Regions from separate parts of the Homo sapiens genome. Here region 2 is linked to region 1. The links come from fine-mapping of genetic effects on gene expression. A gene starts in region 1. The other region holds a variant in brackets. All regions are shown on one strand. Distances are from middle to middle. Region 1 holds the start of AARS2 (alanyl-tRNA synthetase 2, mitochondrial). Region 2 overlaps TMEM151B (transmembrane protein 151B).

What was found.
Region 2: its variant is fine-mapped to the expression of AARS2 in tibial nerve (GTEx, PIP 0.94). The same link has a PIP of 0.9 or more in prefrontal cortex.

The regions. Positions count from the first base shown.
Region 1 is chr6:44,307,841-44,318,736 of GRCh38, reverse strand. It overlaps AARS2 (alanyl-tRNA synthetase 2, mitochondrial), which reads left to right and starts at 5,390. Exons shown (of 22, transcript NM_020745.4): 1 at 5,390-5,656; 2 at 6,474-6,665; 3 at 7,202-7,347; 4 at 7,576-7,743; 5 at 8,294-8,438. The coding sequence starts at 5,414. LOC124901322 (a long non-coding RNA gene) reads right to left here. Exons shown (of 3, transcript XR_007059594.1): 3 at 4,190-4,586. RefSeq lists an enhancer at 5,086-5,645.
Region 2 is chr6:44,272,425-44,283,320 of GRCh38, reverse strand. TMEM151B (transmembrane protein 151B) reads right to left here. Exons shown (of 3, transcript NM_001137560.2): 2 at 9,815-10,255; 3 at 3,877-7,918. The coding sequence ends at 6,794. It overlaps DRC5 (dynein regulatory complex subunit 5), which reads left to right. Exons shown (of 5, transcript NM_182539.4): 4 at 762-1,211; 5 at 2,931-4,587. The coding sequence ends at 3,140. Among named protein-coding and RNA genes, the nearest start is that of TMEM151B, 7.4 kb to the right of the region's middle. RefSeq lists an enhancer at 7,120-7,912. The variant C/G (reference allele first, on the strand shown) is at 5,817.

The DNA.
Region 1 (10,896 bases):
ATGATGCTGAAAATACAATAATAGCTCACTTTTGGAGAGTGATAGAAACAAATCCATTATCTTGAACACTGATAACTGAAGGGGGCAAAATCAAGCATGTAGCCTTTTCTACATTAACTATACCACTGATTAACAAATAATTGATTAGGGGAAGCATCTCTTCATAAAAAGACTCCGATTAATAAACGAAAAAGAGATGACAGAATTAACATATCACCATGTTGCACCTTCCAGTGCGTTAACAGATGTAGGCATTATGTTATCGGGGCTGCTAGGATCACAGAAATACAGACAACCATACATTGATGTACCCTCTGGTGAAGGGGTATCTATGGTCTTGCCAAAGAGATTCAAAATTGTGTCTAATCAAATCTCCACATCCAGGTGCTAATTTGCATGAAATAGAGAAGACAGAGGAACATGTTGAATGTGAGTTGAATGTCGAATATGGAGTCAGCAAAAACTTAGACTGTGGGAAACCACAGATCAAATCTCCGTAGCTAAGCAGTAGATACACTGTAAGGAAAAGGATGGAGATGGAACCTATTGATAAAAAGACTTAAAATATCAAGTCGATACGCTTTTTTAAAAAACGTGCAAGACTATAACATCTAAGGATGTACATTTGGGTGATAAACTGTAAAGAAATGCAATGCAGGCTGAACTCGGTGGCTCACACCTGTAATCCCAGCACTTTGGGAGGCTGAGGTGGGTGGATCACCTGAGGTCAGGAGTTCAAGACCAGCCTCGCCAACATGGTGAAACCCCATCTCTACTAAAAATACAAAAATTAGCCAAGCGTGGTGGTGGGTGCCTGTAATCTCAGCTACTCAGGAGGCTGATGCAGGAGAATTGCTTGAACCTGGGAGGTGGAGGTTGCAGTGAGCCGAGATTGTACCATTGCACTCCAGCCTGGGCAACGAGACTGAAACTCTGTTTCAAAAAAAAAAAAATGCAGTGATTACTATGAAAGTCAGGGTAATGGTCACCTTTGGGAGAAGGAAGCTGGTTGGGGGCAGGGCAGAATCCATGGAGGGGCCCTGGGGTGGCTGCAAAGTTCTATTTCAAGACCTGGGTAGTGGATACAAAGATGTCTGCCTTTGAATCAACAACATTGAAACAAGTCAACATTTGTTTTGGTTGATTTTCTGCATCTACGTTTTATGGTGTGATTTTTAAAAAATCTCTATTGCAGTGTTTGGCAAACTTTTTTTGAAAAGCCACGTATTAAATATTTTAGGCTTTCCAGGCCAAGAGGCAAAATCGAAGTTGTTATGTAGGTATTTCTTTTTTTAGTATTTATTGATCATTCTTGGGTGTTTCTCGGAGAGGGGGATGTGGCAGGGTCATAGGATAATAGTGGAGAGAAGGTCAGCAGATAAACACGTGAACAAAGGTCTCCGGTTTTCCTAGGCAGAGGTCCCTGCGGCCTTCTGCAGTGTTTGTGTCCCTGGGTACTTGAGATTAGGGTGTGGTGATGACTCTTAACCAGCATGCTGCCTTCAAGCATCTGTTTAACAAAGCACATCTTGCACCGCCCTTAATCCATTTAACCCTGTTTCAGAGAGCACGGGGTTGGGGGCAAGGTTCTAGATTAACAGCATCCCAAGGCAGAAGAAATTTTCTTAGTACAGAACAAAATGGAGTCTCCTATGTCTACTTCTTTCTTATGTAGGTATTTCTATAACCAGTTAAAATGTTTATCTTGGAGACCGAGGCATGAGGAATGCTTGACACCAGGAGTTCAAAACTAGCCTGGGCAACATAGCAAAACCCTATCTCTTTCAAAAATAATAAAAATAAAATAAAAATAAATAAAATGTAACTACAGTATTTTTTTAATGCATGAGGATAAACCTCTAGAATTGAGGCCCTCAAGGGTCCACCAATACTTGAATTCCTGATCCGGGGGCTCCACCAGCCATCGGCGTGCCCTGATGACTTTGCCAGATTCCCATGGTAACCGCTCCCCTTCCACCCTGGTCCACATTAACCTCCACGGCTCTAAGCCACAGGCGGACGCAATCACCACCCTCACTTCCCTAAGAAGCTGGGGGAAGGAAGGGGGCGAGCGCTCTTGCGCACGATGAGCTCCCAGCTACACCCACCTACTCTGGGTGAGCACCCCTCCCAGGAGAAAGGGAGAACCTAAGGGCACCTGAGTCTTAGGCCCCAGGACCAGGCAAAAGAACGTTTCCTAAAGCCTGTGTCCAGACTCCCCTCACAAGTCCTTTACTACACCCTTGTCACTCAAGGTATGGTCTAGTAGACTAGCAGCAGCAGCAGCATCACCGGGAGCCTGCTAGAAATGCAGAATTTCACCTACTCCAGACCTACTGGATCATAGTCTGCATATGTAACAAGATCGCAGGAGATCCATATGCATATTAATGTTTGGCAAGTGTTGGTTGCTTTCACAATCCAGATAAGCCAATGCCATAAATAAACACATCAAATCAGAAACACCTGTCGTAGGCTGACTTTTTAACCTAGACGCTAAAAGACTGTTTTTATGATTTATAAGAGGAAATTCCCAAAGTTGAGTTCCCCATGCTTAGTAAGAGTGAAAATTCCCTTTGTCTTCTCTGACCATCAATCCAGGACAGAATGTCTCACTGATCTTGGGGTCCTGCTCTCAAAGCCAATCGGGAAATCAGAAAGGACACTTTCTACTCCTAGAATAAGAGTGTTACATCTTTTAAACAAGGTGAAAGGGAGAGCACAAAGAATGGCTGGATGCCTTGAACCTACCAAGATAAGTAGGTCGAATGGCAACGTAAGGGTAAATCCCACCTCCAGGGAAGATAAAGCACCACTGTCTTAAACAATGAAAGGAGCACCCCAAATGTTGCTCACAAAACCCAGCTGAGTAACTCGCAAAAAGCAGACCCCATTTGCATGTTAAACCTCAAAATGAAATTCCCATAAATACTAAGACAGTGGATCAGTACCCTTCAGAGAAGTTCCCAGGATTGGTAACTTCCCTGTCTGATGAGTTTTCTCCACCTCCATCTATCTTGGGAAACTGCAGTCCTTCAATTTAACTTCCTCATCAGATGACAGCTGCAAACCAGAACAGACACGTCCCAATCCTAGATGAACCGCTTTGCTTCACTGGGAAATATTAAAAAGAACCTAATGATTCACCAAAGAGCACCACATTTAAAGAAAAGAAAATTATCATTTTTAGTGGCAAAGACAAAATTAGATGAGAGAAAAACCTACTTCAAACAGAAAACAACTAAAAACATTTTTCTAAAAATCCATGGTACATGCTACAACATGGATGAACCTTGAAAATATTATTTTATGTGAAAGAAGCCAGTTACAAAGAACCACATATTACATGATTCCATTTACATGAAATGTCCAGAATATACAAGTCTGTAGAGACAGAAGGTAGATTAGTGGTTGCCAAGGGCTAGGAAGGATGAGACGATTGGGGGTTAATGGCTAAAGGATTTGGGGTTTTATTTGGAAGTAATGAAAATGTTCTAAAAGTGATTGTGGTGATGGATGGGCAACTCTATGTAAATATACTAAAAGGCATTGAACTGTATACTTTATTTAAATGGGCGAATTGTATAGCATGTAAATTATATTTCAATAAAGCTGTTTTAAAAAAATTATATGGCTCCACACTAGATCCATGTTTGGAGTTTCTAATGTAACACAATGACTTTCTGGGCAAAATCTGAAAAAAAAAAAGTTGATGTCAGTACTGAGTAGAGGCCCTGCCAGGTTTGTATGGCAAAACACTCCCATCTCAGTTTGGGAAATAATTTCACAGTCTTGTCTAAAGATCATCAATCTCAGCTGGGCGCAGTGGTGCATGCCTGTAATCCCAGCACTTCGGAAGGCTGAGGTAGGCAGGTCAGCTGAGGTCGGGAGTTCAAGACCAGCCTGACCAACATGGAGAAACCCCATCTCTACTAAAAATACAAAATTAGCCGGGCGTGGTGATGCATGCCTGTAATCCCAGCTACTCAGGAGGCTAAGGCAGGATAATTGCTTGAACCCGGGAGACAGAGGTTGCAGAGAGCCGAGATTGTGCTATTGCACGCCAGCACAACAAGAGTGAAACCCCATCTCAAAAAAATAAAAAAGTCATTAATCACACAGAAATCCCCAGCTGGCTTTAGCTTTCTGTTCCAGAAACACTGGAAAAACCAAAACAGGCCAAACACACTTTCAAAACAACACCTTTAATCTATGTGGGCAAAGGGAGAAAAAGGGGATCATGGAATAGGAGTTATAGGTGCTGTCAGAACACAAAGTTAAGAATTTACTATCACTATAGAAATTCAAGTCCAATGTAGATTCCGCAGAGAAACTATGTATACAAAGACCCCAAATAACTTAACACACACAGAATCGTGGCTAAAAGAGACCACCCTGATGGCTAAGGCCTTCTCGGTTATTACACTGACCTCAGCTCTGGAACCTCTATTGAGTTTTAGCTTTGGCAGATTCTCTTCTGTCTTCCCAATCTGTTTAATTTCCCAAGCCAAGGGCATCATGAGAAGCCCCATGAGCACCCTGATTGCATCCACAAGGGCCTGTTGGCTTCAGGGTCACAGCTGTTACTATGGAAAGACAGAAGGGAGAGGTAGAACAGGTATATCTCTTATCCTAAACGAAAACACACAAAACCTTAGGGCATTAGAAGGCTTAGAGAGTGAAATCTCTGCAGCTATTAGCCAACAGCTTCCTCCTGCCTTGACGACCTGGATTCTCTCTGATCCCCAGGCAAATGAGAAGACCAAATGTTAGGCAATTAATAATATAGCAGATGCTGTTTGGCTTCTGTGTTCTCCTATAGACTCCTGCTTCACGGGCAAAAATGGCCGTGTCTGATGCCAAGGTCCAAGGAAACTGGCAAATGCCTAGAACAGTGCCTAGCACATACTAGGTCTTCAATAAATATTTGTTGAATACCTCTTGAATGAATGCTGATACTCCCCTGTCACTCTCTGCCTTCTTCCCTCAGCCTGGAAAAACACACACAAAACACACACACACACACACACACACACACACGAAGTTGAATCCACACCTGTTTATTGCAACCCCATCTGTAACTTTGCAAAACTAATAAGCACAACAGCAATTACTGCTAGAATACGGATTTCAGTGGGCAGGGCATTTTGTCAATTTTGTACCCTAAAAGCCCAAAACAATGCCTAGCACATAGTAGGCTCTCAATGAATATTTGCTTAATGCCGAATGAATTAAGAGCCTACTATGTGCCGGGCGCTGTGCTAGACTCTGCCAGCGACCCAATCGATCGCTTCCACCCCGGCGGCAGAGGCCGCCCCCTGAGTCCTCCTACCGCCAGGGGCCGCTGTAGGAAACGCCTGGCTTCCTTCCCTCGTCACTCTTTGACCACGTAAAGTCACTGCCCGGAGCTACGATGGCAGCGTCAGTGGCAGCTGCAGCCCGGAGGCTGCGGCGGGCCATTCGAAGGTCGCCCGCATGGCGGGGCCTCAGCCATCGGCCGCTCTCATCGGAGCCCCCTGCAGCCAAGGCCTCGGCCGTGAGGGCCGCCTTTCTGAACTTCTTTCGGGACCGCCATGGCCACCGGCTGGTGCCCTCCGCTTCCGTGCGGCCCCGCGGCGACCCCAGTTTGCTTTTTGTCAATGCGGGCATGAACCAGGTGAGGGCCGAACCATACTGATAGGGAGCGGAGTTCGTGAGTTTTCTGGTGAGAAAGACGCTGCAGGATTGGGCAAAAGAAGCGAGAGGCGGAGTTCGTAGCTTTTGGGGAAAGAGGGCGGTGCTTGGTTGGGTAAAGTGATGGGGGTACGGCGCTCAGAGTATAGGGAGGGCTTGGGGAGGGCTTGAGCTGGGAACTTCTGGATTGGGATTGAGTATTAGGTCCAGAAATGGCTGGAGTGGAATCCCGAGGGAGAAGTCTGATTTCATTTATTCGTTATTTAAATAAAGATAACGCTTTCATTAAATGTTTATTGATCACCTATTGTTTGCTGAGTACTATTCTCTAAGGTTTTGGTTTTTATCAACCACTCATCTTTTCTAGACTTCATTGTCCTCATCTGTAAAATAGGGGCGGCATAAGTTAACCTTAGAGGCCGTCTGGGCTCCCTACTAAATGAGTCTCAGTTTTGTTCCCTGAAGTTATTGGGTGTGGTTGAAGAAGCTGAGACGGAGGATGCCACCTTTCAGCGTCCCATTTCCAGCTCCCAACACATTCCTCCTTCTTTTACCTTGCCTATTTTACTAGGCAGAGGGTCTCCGGTTCATGATTTGTTTACCTCTTCTCTGCTCCCCACACACCAGAGATGGCTGTCCCGAGGCTCCCAGTTTGTCCTCATAGACCAAGATTACACTGCACTCTCAGGGGCACAGTCAGCCTTCGGTCTGAACAGCCATCCCTATCCTCACTCCCCACATTTCCCTTCTACTGAGAAATTGGATATCCCTCTCCCCCTCCCCACTCTATGTGCTTCCAGTTCAAGCCAATCTTTCTGGGCACCGTGGATCCACGAAGCGAGATGGCAGGCTTCCGACGTGTGGCCAACAGCCAGAAATGTGTGAGAGCTGGAGGACACCATAACGACCTGGAAGATGTGGGTCGAGACCTTTCCCATCATACCTTCTTTGAAATGCTTGGCAATTGGGCCTTTGGGGGTGAATATTTTAAGGTGAGTCTCTGGGGATCAGTGATCAGCCAAGAAGGGAGTCAATTTGTCCTGTTTCCATTGTACTGTCTGCTTAGGCAGGGCCTCATACCAGATGTGGAGGCAAAGTGCTAGTTGAGCCGGTGTAACAGGAATTACCTCACCTCCCTGATTGGATTGTAAGTCCCTGAAGGGCAGAGACTGTACTTTCTGCCTAATGATCACTCAAAAATTGTTGTTTGAATAAATGGTCAAACAGCAATGCTAAGGTGCTTACTGGAGTTAAAGATCACTCTAGGCTAGAGTAGGCAGAGAATTTCATGTGAAAGTGGGACTTGGTCTGGGACTTGAAAGAAGATAGGACTTAGAAGAAGGGGGAAGCTTTCTGGGCAGGAAAACACTCAGAGGCAGTAATGGTTCATGGCTTATTCTGGGAACAAGATGGCAGCAGAAATGCTTTTGTCTTAAGTCGGGAGCTAAACTCATGTGGCTTGATTACTTCAGTGGGGTCTCCCTCTCACCCGTCTTCCCCCCCCACCCCATGCTGGTTTCTGCTGCAGGAGGAGGCTTGTAACATGGCCTGGGAACTGCTGACTCAGGTCTATGGGATCCCTGAGGAAAGGCTCTGGATCTCCTACTTTGATGGTGACCCCAAGGCAGGGCTGGACCCAGACCTGGAGACCAGGGACATCTGGCTGAGCTTAGGGTAAGTCAGCCCCCTTCTTATGTTCATTCCTGGAGGTCAGGAGGACTGGAAAGTGGAGACTACCAGCACCAATCCTCAGAGTCTTAGCATTTCATTCCAGGATATTGTGGGGTCAGCCCTGTTCCTCCTCTTGCTGAGCTGTGACTTGAGGGAGGGGCTCTCATGGCAGAGAGAGTCCCAGCTTCTGGGTCTGTCTGTCTCCCACCACTCACCTGCTTTTCTCCCCAGGGTGCCTGCTAGCCGTGTGCTTTCCTTTGGACCACAAGAGAACTTCTGGGAGATGGGGGATACTGGCCCTTGTGGGCCCTGTACTGAGATCCACTACGACCTTGCTGGTGGGGTGGGAGCCCCCCAGCTGGTAGAGCTTTGGAACCTGGTCTTCATGCAACACAACAGGTAATAGGGTGCTGAAGCAGGATGAGAATCCCTGACTAGAAGTGGGAAAGGTGGCAATTAGAAGACTTTGATCTGTTTCATATAAAAACAAACATGTAAACGGTGCTTACCGTGTGTCAGGCACAATTCTCAACACCTTATAGATAATAACTGATTTAATTGTAGTCTTTGCCTGTGACAGCTTAAACAAGTCACTGCTATTCTCTGTTGAACTTGATGATCAACGAGTTGAACTTGATGATCTCAGATTTTCTTCTAGCCTTGACATATCTTTCTAGGGGCAAAGAATTCTGTCCCAAGATGGGATGTCTGGTGCCCAGGCAAGGGCCCAAGCAGGGGTGAGAATGGAAATAGCCCTATATGAGGAAGGACAGGACCCCAAGGCCATCATCATCTGCTATTGCAGGGTGGCAGGGGAAGATACTGATTGTCTGGTTCCTCCCACTGTCAGCTCCCTTGGGCCCCCCCCCATTTCTCTACTCCACTTGGGCATCTGTCTCACACCTGTAATCCTGGGTGGGGCCTCACCTTGCACACCTTCCCTGGCCAGAGAGGCAGATGGAAGCCTGCAGCCCCTGCCCCAGCGGCATGTGGACACAGGAATGGGCCTGGAAAGGCTGGTGGCTGTGCTGCAAGGCAAACACTCCACCTATGACACTGACCTCTTTTCCCCGCTGCTCAACGCCATACAGCAGGTGAGTGCCTCTTCCCTTCCAGAAGCCCTCTAACCTGCTCTTCACAGCCCTCAGCCCCATTGCATTCCATCTTTGTTGAGAACTCAGAGTGTTCTCAGCATCTGAGGACAATAACCAACCAAGAATTCCAAGACGTCAAGCAAGACACTAGGATTCATTACTTATTACCTGATGTTCCTCCTAACTCCTTGCCTCTTTCATTTATTTAGAAAATACGTGTTGAGTGCTTACTTTATGTTAAATCCTTTGTGTTTGGTACAGAAGACACAGCAGTAAGCAGGAAAGAGATCATGGAGATTATATGCTAGCATGAGAGATAGACAATCAATAAATGTGTTAAAGAACAAGGTAATAGCTTACAGATTGTGAACAGGCAGTAAACATGGGTGAAAGTAACTAGGAAGAAGGAGGGGTACAGAGGAATCTTAGATAAGGTGCTTGGGGAAGGCTCACCAAGAAGATGACCTTTGAGCTGAGCCCCAAAGGAGGAGTCAGCTACAGGAAGTTCTTTCCAGGCAGAGGGGACAGCAGGTACCAAGGGCCTTGGTACTGATGGATTAGATGGGGAGGGGAAAGAGAAATCAAAGATGGCTCCCAGGCTATTGGCTTGAGCAACACAGTGAATGGCATGACTGTTTACTGAGATGAAGAAGCTTGGGGAAGAGAGAGGTTTGGAGCTAGGTGAATCAAGCTCCCTGCTTTGGAGCATTTCCACATGTGTGTAGCTTATACCCTCCCTCCTTGCCCCGCAAGAAAGGGCTTGACATGTGCCAAAAACTAAAAGGTGGCCAGCCAGCTAAAGGAGAATCCCATGGGATATAGTAGGAACATGTGTCAGTTGGCTTTTGCTGTATAACCACCCTAATGCTCTGTGGCTTAACCAACAACCATGTATCTGCCCCCTGAGTCTGTGAGCTAGCGTTTAGGCTGGGCTTAGCTGGCTCATTCTTTGGTCTTGTGTGAGCTCATTCATCCATCTGTGGTGAGCTGAGAGGCCGCAGCTCCTCTGGGGCTTGGCTGGCTGTCAGTTTGGGGGCAGTAGGGGTGACTGGACCATGTGTCTGTCATCACCTAGCTGGCTAGTCTGGGCTTGTCCACATCACAGCTCAGCAAGGTTCCAAGACAGAGAGCAGACACATAGGCTCAGAACAGTGTTGTTTCCACTGTATTCTATGGGCCAAAGCAAGTCACAAAGCCAGCAGAGATTCAGGGGATGGAGAAATGGATTCTGTCCCTTGATGGGAAACAGCTGTAAAGTCCCATTTTAAAGTGGCATATGCCTAGGAAAGGGCCATTTTTGTGAACAGTCTCACAGAGAAGAAGGCAGAATCCAGTCTTGTGGGCCTCAAAGTCCAAAGTGGGGCCTTGATTCTCAGAGTGGTGAGAAGAGTTCTCAGGGCTGGGCACGGTGGCTCACTCCTGTAATCCCAGCACTTGGGGAGGCAGAGGGGGGCGGATCGCTTGAGGTCAGGAGTTGGAGACCAGCCTGGCCAACATGGCAAAATCCTGTCTCTACTAAAAAAATAGAAAAATCAGCCAGGCATGGTGGCACACACCTGTAGTCCCAGCCACTTGGGAGGCTGAGGCAGGAGAATCTCTTGAACCCAGGAGGTGGAGGTTGCAGTAAGCTGAGATCGTGCTACTGCACTCTAACCTGGGCAACAGAGTGAGAGTTCATCTCAAAAAAAATAAATAAATAAAAGTGTACATCAGATCATGCCACACTCCCCACTGAGAACCCTTCTTTTTTTTTTTTGAGACAGAGTCTTGCTTGCTCTGTTGTCCAGGCTGGAGTGCAGTGGCATGATCTCGGCTCACTGCAACCTCTGCCTCCGGGGCTCAAGCAATTCTCGTGCCTCAGCCTCCAGAGTAGCTGGGATTACAGGCACCCGCCAACACACCTGACTAATTTTTGTATTTTTAGTACAGATGGGGTTTCACCAGGATTGGCCAGGCTGGTCTCAAACTCCTGACCTCAGGTGATCCACCCGCCTCAGCCTCCCAAAGTGTTGAGATTACAGGTGTGAGCCACCGCGCCCAGCCTGATGTACACTTTTAAAAGGCTACTCCTGTTGCTGTGTGGAGGATGAGCTGGAGGGAGATGAGAGCAGAAACTTAGGAATCAGTTGGGAGGCTATTATCGGTCCAGGCAAGGACCACAGGGCATGCTTCGGATAATAGCAGTGGAAGTAGAGACAAGTAGATTGATTTGAGAGATGTCATGGAGGTAGGAGCAAAAGGAACCACTGATGGATCATGACGGGTAGGGGAAAAAGAATTCAAAGATGGCTCCCAGGCTATTGACTTGAGCAACACAGTGAATGGCATGACTGTTAGACGAAGAAGCTTGGGGAAGAGAGAGGTTTGGTGGTAAGTGAATCAAGCTCCCTGCTTTGGAGCATTTCCGTGTATGTAGCTTACACTCTCCCTCCCTGCCCACCCCCACAAAAGATGGGAG
Region 2 (10,896 bases), 35 kb after region 1:
CTCCTTGCCCTGGTGGATCTTGGCTGGGAGAGGAGGATGCAGTGAGGGGCTGAGGCCTCAGGCAGGCTTGGATTCCAAACCTGTCTCAACTGCTTCAATCACTGCATTACTCTGGGGAAATAATGTAAGCCTCCATTTTCTGTCTGTAAAATGGAGAGAACTTTCTCTTCTTCATCGAGATGCTGAAGGTTAGAGATAATGGTTGTGAAAGACCCAAGCGGCCGGGCGCGGTGGCTCACGCCTGTATTCCCAGCACTTTGGGAGGCTGAGGCGGGTGGATCACGAGGTCAGGAGATCAAGACCATCCTGGCTAACACGGTAAAACCCTGTCTCTACTAAAAATACAAAAAATTAGCAGGGCGTGGTGGCGGGCACTTGTAGTCTCAGCTACTCAGGAGGCTGAGGCAGGAGAATGGTGTGAATCCGGAAGGTGGACCTTGCAGTGAGCCAAGATCACGCCACTGCACTCCAGCCTGGGTGACAGAGCGAGACTCCGTCTCAAAAAAAAAAAAAAAAAAAAAGATAAAAAAGGAAGACCCAAGCAGCATACCCAGCATGTAGTAATTGCTCAATAAACAGTGATCTTTCCTCCCTGCTACCTGCCACCAATTCTACACTACTCTGCCATGCTGGTAGGCCTGGCCCCCTCCAAGACCCAGCCAGGTGGCCAACACTAGGTGAGCCAAGTTTGCCAAAGATCTAGGTGGGCAGGCTGATTATCCCTGGCTGGCAGTTGCTGTAGACCCTCTGCCTGCCCACAGATCTTCAAGCTGACCCGAAGCAAGGTGGATGATGACAAGGCACGCATCATAATTCGAAGCCTTCTGGACCACCCAGTCCTCGAGGAGCTGGACTTGTCACAAAACCTCATTGGAGACCGTGGTGCACGAGGTGCTGCCAAGCTGCTGAGCCACAGCCGCCTGCGTGTGCTCAACCTGGCTAACAACCAGGTGCGTGCACCCGGTGCCCAGTCCCTGGCTCACGCTCTGGCACACAACACCAACCTCATTTCCCTCAACCTACGTCTCAACTGCATCGAGGATGAGGGTGGCCAGGCTCTTGCCCATGCCTTGCAGACCAACAAGTGCCTCACCACGCTGCACCTCGGTGGCAATGAGCTGTCTGAGCCCACCGCCACACTCCTGTCACAGGTGCTCGCCATCAACACCACACTCACCAGCATCAACCTGTCCTGCAACCACATCGGGCTGGTGAGCCACCTATTCTGGGCTTGTGAGGGTGGGTGTGGAATCCAACTGCCAGGGGTACTTGTGGGATAATTGTGAAGATCACAGAGTTTACATACTACATACTGCATCAAGTATGCACACATACTGTGTATCCCAATGATTATTTTTCCTTTAATCCTTACAGTTACCTAAGTAACTGTATATTAACCCTAAGCATATTTAACCCTAAATATATTTAAGTATATAACTAAGTATATTTAACCCTACTTTCTAGATGGAAAACTAAGTTTCAGAGAGGATAGTGAGTTGCCCAAGGGCATCAAGTCAGTAGCAAGTGGCAAGGCTACGATTCAAACCCAAGATTGATTGAAAGCCTGAGTCCTTTCTAATAGACTGTGTCTCTAAAACTTTCTTAACCAAGTCTGAGAGTAAGAAATGCAATTTACGACCAGGCACAGTGGCTCACGCCTGTAATCCCAGCACTTTGGGAGGCTGAGGTGGGTAGATCACCTGAGGCCAGGAGTTCGAGACCAGTCTGGCCAACATGGTGAAACCCCATATCTACTAAAAATACAAAAATCAGCCCAATGTGGTGGCATGCACCTGTAACCCCAGCTACTTGGGAGCCTGAGGCAGGAGAATTGCTTGAACCCAGGAGGCGGAGATTGCAGTGAGCTGAGATCGTGCCCCTGCACTCCAGCCTGGGTGACAGTGCGAGACTCCGTCTCAAAAAAAAAATGCAATTTACATGAACACTGACATAAACATAATATTGAAATTTATGACGTGATATATGCTGATATTTTCCTTTACATTCCATTCTATTGTATTTTTTAAAATGCTTCTGTGACCCATTAAATTGACTTTGCAACACACTACTGGGTCACAACCACAGAATGGTAGCATTCTGCCTCCCAACGTGAAATTCTTTCACATTGGGGCTAGCCCACCCAGCCCAGCAGGGGTTGGAGCTGTGATGACCATTGAGCAGGGCCCTCCATTAGGTCACTGAACCCTCTACTAAACCTCCCCATGAGAACAGCCTTGCTCACCTACACAGGCACATACACGCACACACACGTGCATGCGCGCACACACACACACACACAGTTTCTAGAGGGGGTGCTGTTGACTGCAAGTAATAAAAAGCTTAATCAGAAATGGCTTAAGCAGGAGGAATATTCAGTGTCTCCCACAACCAGAATTAGAGGGTTGTAGGGTCGGTAAACCCCTGGGTTCAGTGCTACCCTCTGCTCTGCCCACCCCAGTCTCATGGCCAATGCCTCGCTAGTGCTTCTGTCAGTCCCAAGATGGCTGCCACAGTTCTGACATCTCATACAGGGACATGCCCAGAGGCAGAAACCGGGAGAACACCTGCTCCCTTTTCTTCTCTTTTTGGAATGAGGAGAAGCTTCCCAGAAGCCACCCTCTCTCAGCTTCCCCCTCACATCTCATTAGATTTGTCCCACATGCCCATGGCTGAACCAAAGGAATGGAATTATCTTCATTGCCAGAGATTCATGTTTTTCAAACTAGTAGGGTTGAGATGTCAATTTAGTGGGTATTGGCTACCATTTTTCAAATGGAAAAGAACAGAATATGTCATCATGCGTCACAAATAGGTTAAGTATTGTTTTGTGAAACTTTTGTTTTAGTCACATCTACCTGAAAATGTGTAGTATGTGTGTCAGATCCTGGGTAGTGATGTAAATGACCCCTTCCTTTGCACCCTTCTCCCAGGACGGTGGGAAGCAGCTCCTGGAAGGCATGTCAGACAACAAGACCCTCCTGGAATTTGACTTGCGCCTGTCAGATGTGGCCCAGGAAAGCGAGTACCTCATTGGCCAGGCCCTCTACGCAAACCGAGAAGCAGCCCGCCAGCGGGCCCTGAATCCCAGCCACTTCATGTCAACCATAACTGCCAATGGCCCTGAGAACTCTGTGGGATAAAATGACCTGACTTGGATCATGGCCCCAGCCCCATCCCTCATTTCATACCCCTGCCATGCCTGCTGCAGAGTATCACACTGGTTCAGAGGGAGCGGGGAGGGGGACTGTGAATAACCTTGGAGTGATCAAGGGTTGTATGGATGGAGACATGAGGCAGGGAAGGGAGCCTGGCATGGGGGAAGAAAGGGTATGCAGTAGGGACCCAGCCTTTGTGCCCAGGGAAAGGATATTACTGGACACCCACAAATGACCAACTTCTTTCAGGAACAGGGAAGTCAGAGAGGTGTCTGAGGGACTGTGCCTGCCAGATTCTCCCGTTGGGGCTGCCTGCCTCCCTGACTCCCCACCATTTTCTTCTCTACCAAACAGATCCTTGATCTTCAAACACACACACACACACACACACACACACACACACACACACACACACACCCTCTGGCTACAGCAGGGCTATGCCTGGCTCTCTCTGCCACCCTCATCCCTGTAGATGCATTTCCCTGTTGCTTGACTCTGCTTTAAGTGATCCAGTTCTACAGGCCACGCCATCCCCTAGTTCCCCAACTCCCAACCTGGGAAGGGGACAATGAGCTGACACCAGGGGCTCAGACCCAGTGGACTCCTCTGGGGAGGCAACTGTAGATGACAACTTCCAGGGAAGGATGACACAATCCCTGCCACCCACCCCAGAGAGCTTCCCTGGGAGGGAGGGAAAGAAGTGCCACACTGGGACAGGAAGTCAGTGAGTCATCCACGACTTTATTATCCACCAGTTTGATTTGTACAATCTTTGCGCTTAAATCCACGACAAAAAGGCCACAGTGTGATGCACCCAATTGACAGAGACCTGTCTTCTCCCCAGCCAGGCCCAGCCCACCCCACAAGCCCTTGTCCCCAGGACACATGGAGCCTTCCAGGTGCCCTACATGAGTCCCCCATCACTCTGTAGCTGTCCACCCTGGGGCCACACCTACAGGAATCACATCAGCCCCCAGGGCCACAAGAGACCTAGCTGACTGATTCAGGCTGAGCGCCATTGCCCATCCTCCTTGGGCTGATTCATTGGCCCAGAGCCTCCAGAACTGTGTCCCCAAAGGGCAGGTCATGGGCTACAACCCCAGTCCAGGAGTGCCTGCTCTCCAGGGACTCCTTCCGCTAAGCAGGCGCTGAGCAGAGCACCAAAGGGGGCTTGGGAGTGACTGCATGTGTGTGCCTGTCTAGGCAACCTAGAGTCTGTCTGTGCCTGACACCCTCTGACAGTTCCGGAGTGCAAACGTGTAGGTGTGAGGGTGTGTGTGTGTGTGTGTGTGTGTATAGCCACAGCTGCTAGCAGAAGTTCTAATTAGAGAAACAAGAACATTCAGTGTAAAGTTTAATTTTAGAGATTAATTAATTTTCTGGTTTTCATTTTCCCTGGCAATCAGTAAAGCTACCAAGAAAATAGACCAAAGAATTGGTTTCTCTCTAAGTCTGTGCATGTGTGGGAGATGAGGCTGTCTGAGACGACCTAGGCAGAAATGGTCAATACAGGCAAAAATAATAATAGAGGTCCCCCTTCCCCTCTTGTGAGACCAGGCTCTGTCTCAGGAACAGGCCTGAGGGAGGAGGAGCCACGTTCCTCCTTCCTTGGAGCCCTGAGGTGGCCAGGCTGTCCCCACACAAAGCATGACATCCAGGTGCCAGCTGGCTAAGAAATGGAGCCTGAGGCTGCAGCTCACCACCTGTACCTCACAGATGTCCATTCAGAGGAAAGAAGGGTGCTCCAAACGCCAGGCCCCCAAGGAGCACAGACTCAGGGTCCAGGCAGGTTCAGTGCTAGTAGGCAGGTGGGCACTGCTGTCCAGGAAAACCTGGTGGGCAGCTGTTTCCCCTGCCCAAGCCTCCCTCTCTCTAGCCTCTTCTCCCTCCTCACTCAGCCATCTCTACCTGAAAGTAAAGCTAAACCCTTTAGAAGCCATGGGCCATGGTATCCCCACAATTTGGGCCCCTCGCACTCCCCGCTAGGAAGAAGGGAAGGGGAGCCAGAGGCGATGTTGCATAGGTGGAGGCCACACAGTTGGTGGTGCAGGCCTGGCTGGGCTGAAGGAAGATGAGAGGGGCTGAAGGAGGGTAAGGAGGAGTTCTGATGGCTCAGGCGAAGTAAGAAGCATCAGGGGTGAGAGATGTGGGTGGCCCAAGGGTTATCCTCTCTAGCCTGAAATGTGAGCTCAATCCCTGGGTGCTAAATCTGCTGGGGAGACTTTAGCCAGGGGAGTTGGCAGGGCAGGAGGGCTGTTCACAGACATGCACACTGAAGCACATCAGGGTGGAGGTGGTGGGGGGAGCACACGGAGAGAAGGCGGTGTCAGAGCTTTAGGGGAACAGGACGTGGGGCCAGCGCCCTGGGGTGGTGGCAGGATGCCCCTTTGAAGACCCTGCGACACACAGCAGGGCTTCAGCTCATAGGATAGGGAAGGATGGAAGGGTTGGGCAAGATTTAGAGAATGCTTGCCTCTGACCCTGCCATTGGAATTATTTCTCCAGTTGGGGCTTGTGACAACGTCCTCAGTCCCCCAGAGATGTGTTTGAGCGACAAGCACACTCCACTCCTCCGCACAGGTTTAGGGAGGCAAAGGCCGCCCCCACAGACACCCCACCTCTGGAGGTCCTTTTCCTCTACCCTCCACTGCCCTCTCCTCT[C/G]TTACTCCCACCTGCTTCCAGAGGTCCCCGTTGCCACCCAGGTCTATGTCATGCTCTCTCCCCTTAGTCACTCGTGCTGGCCAGCTTTAACGAGTGCTGCCCGGGTGGCATCTCACTCTCTAAAAGGGGTATACACTCAGAACCCAGGTGAGGAGGCCCCTGTTGGGAGGCTGAGGAGTTTAGAGAGAGGACTGAGGTACACAGTCCTCCACATTTCACTCCCCTCCCCACTGCACCCTGGCAACAGCTCTGCAGGACTGGGGAGCGGAAGGTGAGTGATGTCTGTGCAGTGAGCACAGTCCCTCTGGACCTGGAGTGGGGGCCCAGTTAGATAAACAACAGTGGAGGGAGCGGCAGAAAGGAAACCCCAATCTTGGGGTCAGCGCCAAGAAGAGGGCAGCAACATTTCCACGGTGTTGGATGGAGGCCTAGGGCTGACACCTGGCCCCAGCCTCAGACCTGCTGAATGCATTAGCTAGTTGGAATCCAGCCTGCTGGTCACCAAACCATTGCCCCCTCCATAGAGAGAGGCCCCAGGGGAGTGAGGCCACGAAGGAAGGAAAGCCCCAAGTTCCCTTCTCCACAGCCTCTAAATCTCCCATCCGCATGCCAGGGCCTCTCCCTTCAGACAAGGCCCAACGCGGGGCCCACGGCACGGTTGTCATCTAACAGAAGATCTGTTGAAGGGCTGGACAGGAGGGAGGTGTCCCTTTAGGAACTCAGGGTTGGGGCTGGAAGAATGACTCTGCCAGGGGGATCTCGGGGAGCAGCCGACCCCCTCCCACCCATCGGTCTCTTTATGTACAGGGACAGCGGGGGTCTCGGCCCCATCCGGGCCTGTCTTGCGGCCCTCACCTCCCTTTCCCTGCCCCCCGCGCGGCCTCAGTCACCGTGGTGACTCGCCCTGCGTCGCAGAGGGAGCACAGTCCGGCGAGGGGCAGGCGGGAGGACGGCGCGGGCCACTCCGGGGCCGGAGGTCACAGTGAGGTCTCTACGCAGGAGCCGTGGCGGTGCAGCGGCCGGTGGCTGTGGCCCAGACACCCCTCCTGCCGGTGGACGATGAGGACCGGAAAGTAGAGGGCGTCGTGGTAGGGCGGCGGCGGCCCGGCCTCCTCCTCGTCGTCGTCCTCGTCGTCCCCCATGCTGGCCTGGCTGGACAGCCGCGTCTGCTCCGTGGGGCAGCTGGCCTCGTTGACGCTCCCGCTGCGGCTGCGCCACAGGCAGCTGCGCCGGGAGCCGTAGAGACGGCCCAGCGAGAAGCGGCTGCCCCCGCAGCCCGCGCCCCCACCGGGCCCCGGGCCGGCCCGCGGGCTGGCGCAGATGCTTAGGGCGCTGCGCGAGAAGATAGACGAGCTGCTGACGGCGCGCTGGCAGTGCTCGCAGCTGCGCCGGTAGGGAGCCACGCCCGCCGCGCCCGGGCCGCCTACCCCACCGTAGCGGCACGAGGGCGCGTAGCCGCCGCCTGCCCCGCCGCAGCGCGTCCCGAGCCCCGCCAGGTCCATGAGCACCGCCTCAGAGTAGCTGGGCACCAGCTGCTGGTTGGAGCGGATGTGCCACTCGAGCTCCGTGCTGTCTACTGTGTTGACCCGCGGCAGGCGGTGGGTGAGCGGGGGCAGCAGCTCATCGCTGGGGCTGAGGCCACCGCCTGCGCTGCTGGCCGAGCCCGGGCCCTCCAGGCCAAATAGCTTCTCCACGTGGTAGTGCGCGTAGGCCGTGCGGTACTCGGCCAGCACTCGCAGCGGCCACGACAGCGTGAGCAGCGCCGCGGCCCAGAAGGCCGACGAGCAGGCGTACCAGGGCGGCCGGGCCGGGTCCGGGAAGGCCACCATGAACTCACGGAAGTCCACGTTCTTGAGGTGCATGCCCTCGCGTGCCTCCATGTAGTCGTCTAGGCCCTCGTTCTCTGCGAAGAAGCGCGCGCGCTGGCACAGGTACGCGTTCTCGGCCTCCACGCTGGCGAAACTGAAGCACTTGGTGAAGCGCAGCCGCGTGGCCGGCGCGCCCTCCAGCCCCACCAGCGTCTTGGACACGTCGCGAACGCCGCAGCGCGCGTAGTCGAACTCAGCCTCCGCCACGTGCGTGTTGACGCGTTCGTGGTAGACCTGCGGCGCGGGGGGCAGGCGGCGGGGTCGCGGGGAGCCCGTCATTGGTGCCCGCTTCTGCCCACTCACCCTTTCCCGCCCCATCTGTGCTCTGGTTGCCTGGTCGGACCCTAAGTCTGTCTTGGTTTAGGTGCCGGCTGGAGCTGGTTAGGATCTTTCCGTCTGACTTACAGGGCAACTGACGCCCTCTGTGTAATCAGACGTGATGACCGGACTAGAACCAGCCCTACCTGTGCGCATTTAAATTTTTTTTCTTTTTCTTTTTCTTTTTTTTTTTTTTTTTTTGAGATGGAGTCTGGCTCTGTCGCCCAGGCTGGAGTGCAGTGGCGCCATCTCGGCTCACTGCAAGCTCCGCCTCCCGGGTTCATGCCATGCTCCCGCCTCAGCCTCCCGAGTAGCTGGGACTACAGGCGCCCACTACCACGCCAGGCTAATTTTTTGTGTTTTTAGTAGAGACGGGGTTTCACTATGTTGGCCAGAATGGTCTCGATCTCTTGACCTCGTGATCCACCCGCCTCGGCCTCCCAAAGTGCTGGGACTACAGGCATGAGCCACCGCCCCCGGCCGCGCATTTAAATTTTAACTAAGCCCTGCTTCCTCTAGGGGTCAGGCCCTGGCCATGAACTGCCCCTCTGGCCTGCCTGATCCATTTGCCACTGCCTCTGTTTTCCAAAGTGCCCCCACATCACCACAAACAGCCTCCTCTTCTTCTTTCTTCCCTTTTACAATTGTGTTTCCCAATGGGTTCCCCAGAAGCACTCCCTAAAGAACCCCTCTATCTCTAGTCTGCCTGTTCACGCTGTAGCTATCATCAGCCTCCTTCCTGCTTCTCACCCGCCCCAGGCTTCTGTCTATTGATCCTTATACTGAGACAGATGGCCTGCATCTGGGAACGTCTCCTCCAGGACCCCAATATGTCTCATCCTGGCGAGTCCACAAAGTGCTGATTGACCTGCCCACCCTCAGTGAGACTTCCTACGCCCACCTCCTCTTAGACCCTTGAACTTGACATCCAGGAAGCTGGGATTGAGCCTAGCACTACCACTTAAGAGCAGCAGACTTTGGACAAGTCACTGAGTTTAGGTGTCCATACCTGTGAAAGAACTCAGTAGCAGTCACCTCACTGAACAGGTAAGAGCATGCTATGATACTGGGCATGTGAAGCCATCTCCAGCCATTAAGCACTATTTTTATTTTTATTTTTTTTTTTGAGATGGGGTCTTGCACTGTGGCAATCACAGCTCACTACAGCCTCAACTGCCCAGGCTCAAGCGATTCTCCCACCTCAGTTTCCTGAGTAGCCGGGACTACAGGTGCATACCACCACACCAGCTACTTCTTTTTATTATTTATAGAGATGGGGTCTTACTATGTTGCTGCCGGGTGGGCTGGTCTCAAACTCCTGGCTCAAGAGATCCTTCTGCCTCACCAAAGTGCTGAGGTTACAGGCCTGAGCCACCACACTCTGCCATTAATCACTAAGTAGATCCATTAAGCACTAAACAGTATAGAGATCCTGGAGCCAGATTGATTGAGTTCAAGTCTCATCTCCACCACATACTGCCTATTTGACCTTAGACACATTACTTAAACTCTCCAGGCCTCAGTTTCCTCATCTGCAAAATGGGAATACCTGCCTACATCATAGGGTTGTTATGAGGGTTAAATAAATGATTTGATGTGTGTAAAATACTTAGAGCAGAGCCTGGCTCCTGGTCGGTTTTTGCTGTTATGATTATGGTTGTTGCTATTGCCCTGCTGTTGCAATGCTCATGGGAGCTCACTGCTGCCTTTTGCTCCTCCCACCTTCCCCCCAGGGAGGTGGGGAGGGAGTGAGGCAGCACGTAAGTGCCACCTCCCATGTTGAATGTCCTGCACTCCCCACCAGCTCCTCACCTGGGTGGTGGTATAGGCGTCTCCATTGCGGTATCTGGTGACCTGGCGGGTGCGGCGGACATAGTGGTAGCTGATGGCCTTCCACCAGATGCAGGGCGTGGCTTGCTGCATGCGGCCCACACGTTCCCGCACACTGCTCACATCAACACGGTGCTGCAGCTCATGGCGGGCTTGGCAGTGCCAACACTCCACCAGGTAGACGGCGTACAACATGAGCAGGAAGGCCAGGGGGATGTAGACATAGCCGTTGGAGCAGGGGCTGTCATGGTACATGAGGCTGTTGCCCTGGTAGGCGCTGCTGAAGGTGAGGCGCGTCACTGTGGTGACGTGGCACCAGGCCACTGCCCCCAGGCAGCCGTACATGAGCAGCGAGAGCAGGAGGCACTTCCAGTGGGACTCACGGCAGAGGGACTTGGTGAAAGAGGGCTGGATGGGACGCTGCTGCTCAGGTGGGCAGGGAGAGGGGCCAAGATGAGTGGGAAGTGAGAGCAGGCAGGACCCAGCACAGAGATGGATACGGGGATGGAGGGGCAGAGGCCAGCACCAGAGATAACAGGCAGAGAGAAACAGGGATATGGAGAGAAAAGGTGAGACCAAGATGGGAGCCAGGGGCCAGAGGTAGAAACAGAAGTGACACAGAGCAAGCCAGAGGACAGGAAAGGGGACCGGAATGCCAGTACAGGAGAGTGCAGAGAGAGACACCCCAAGAGGCAGAGAAGGATCAGAGCCAGAGATAGAGGCCCAGGCAGCAAACACAGATGGATAGGATGGTACCCAGAGAGCATCCGAAGACAAACACAAAAATGGCAATGAAACAGAAGATGTGGACAGGGAAGACAGGGGAGGACAGACAGACAGGCATCAGCGAAGGAAGGTCCCCAGCCCAGACCCCTTCCAGGTCCTCTAGAAAAGGGGGAGGGACCCACTGACATCACTTCCCCACTTAACAAGTGGGGCCCTCACTTCCAGATTTTTTTCAGTCCTAGGTTCTAGAGGAGCTACTCCCCTCTGACCCATCCACCTCCCTAACCCTCACAATTAGCCTAACACGTCCTTTGGATAAGGGCCTCCAGAGAACCCCA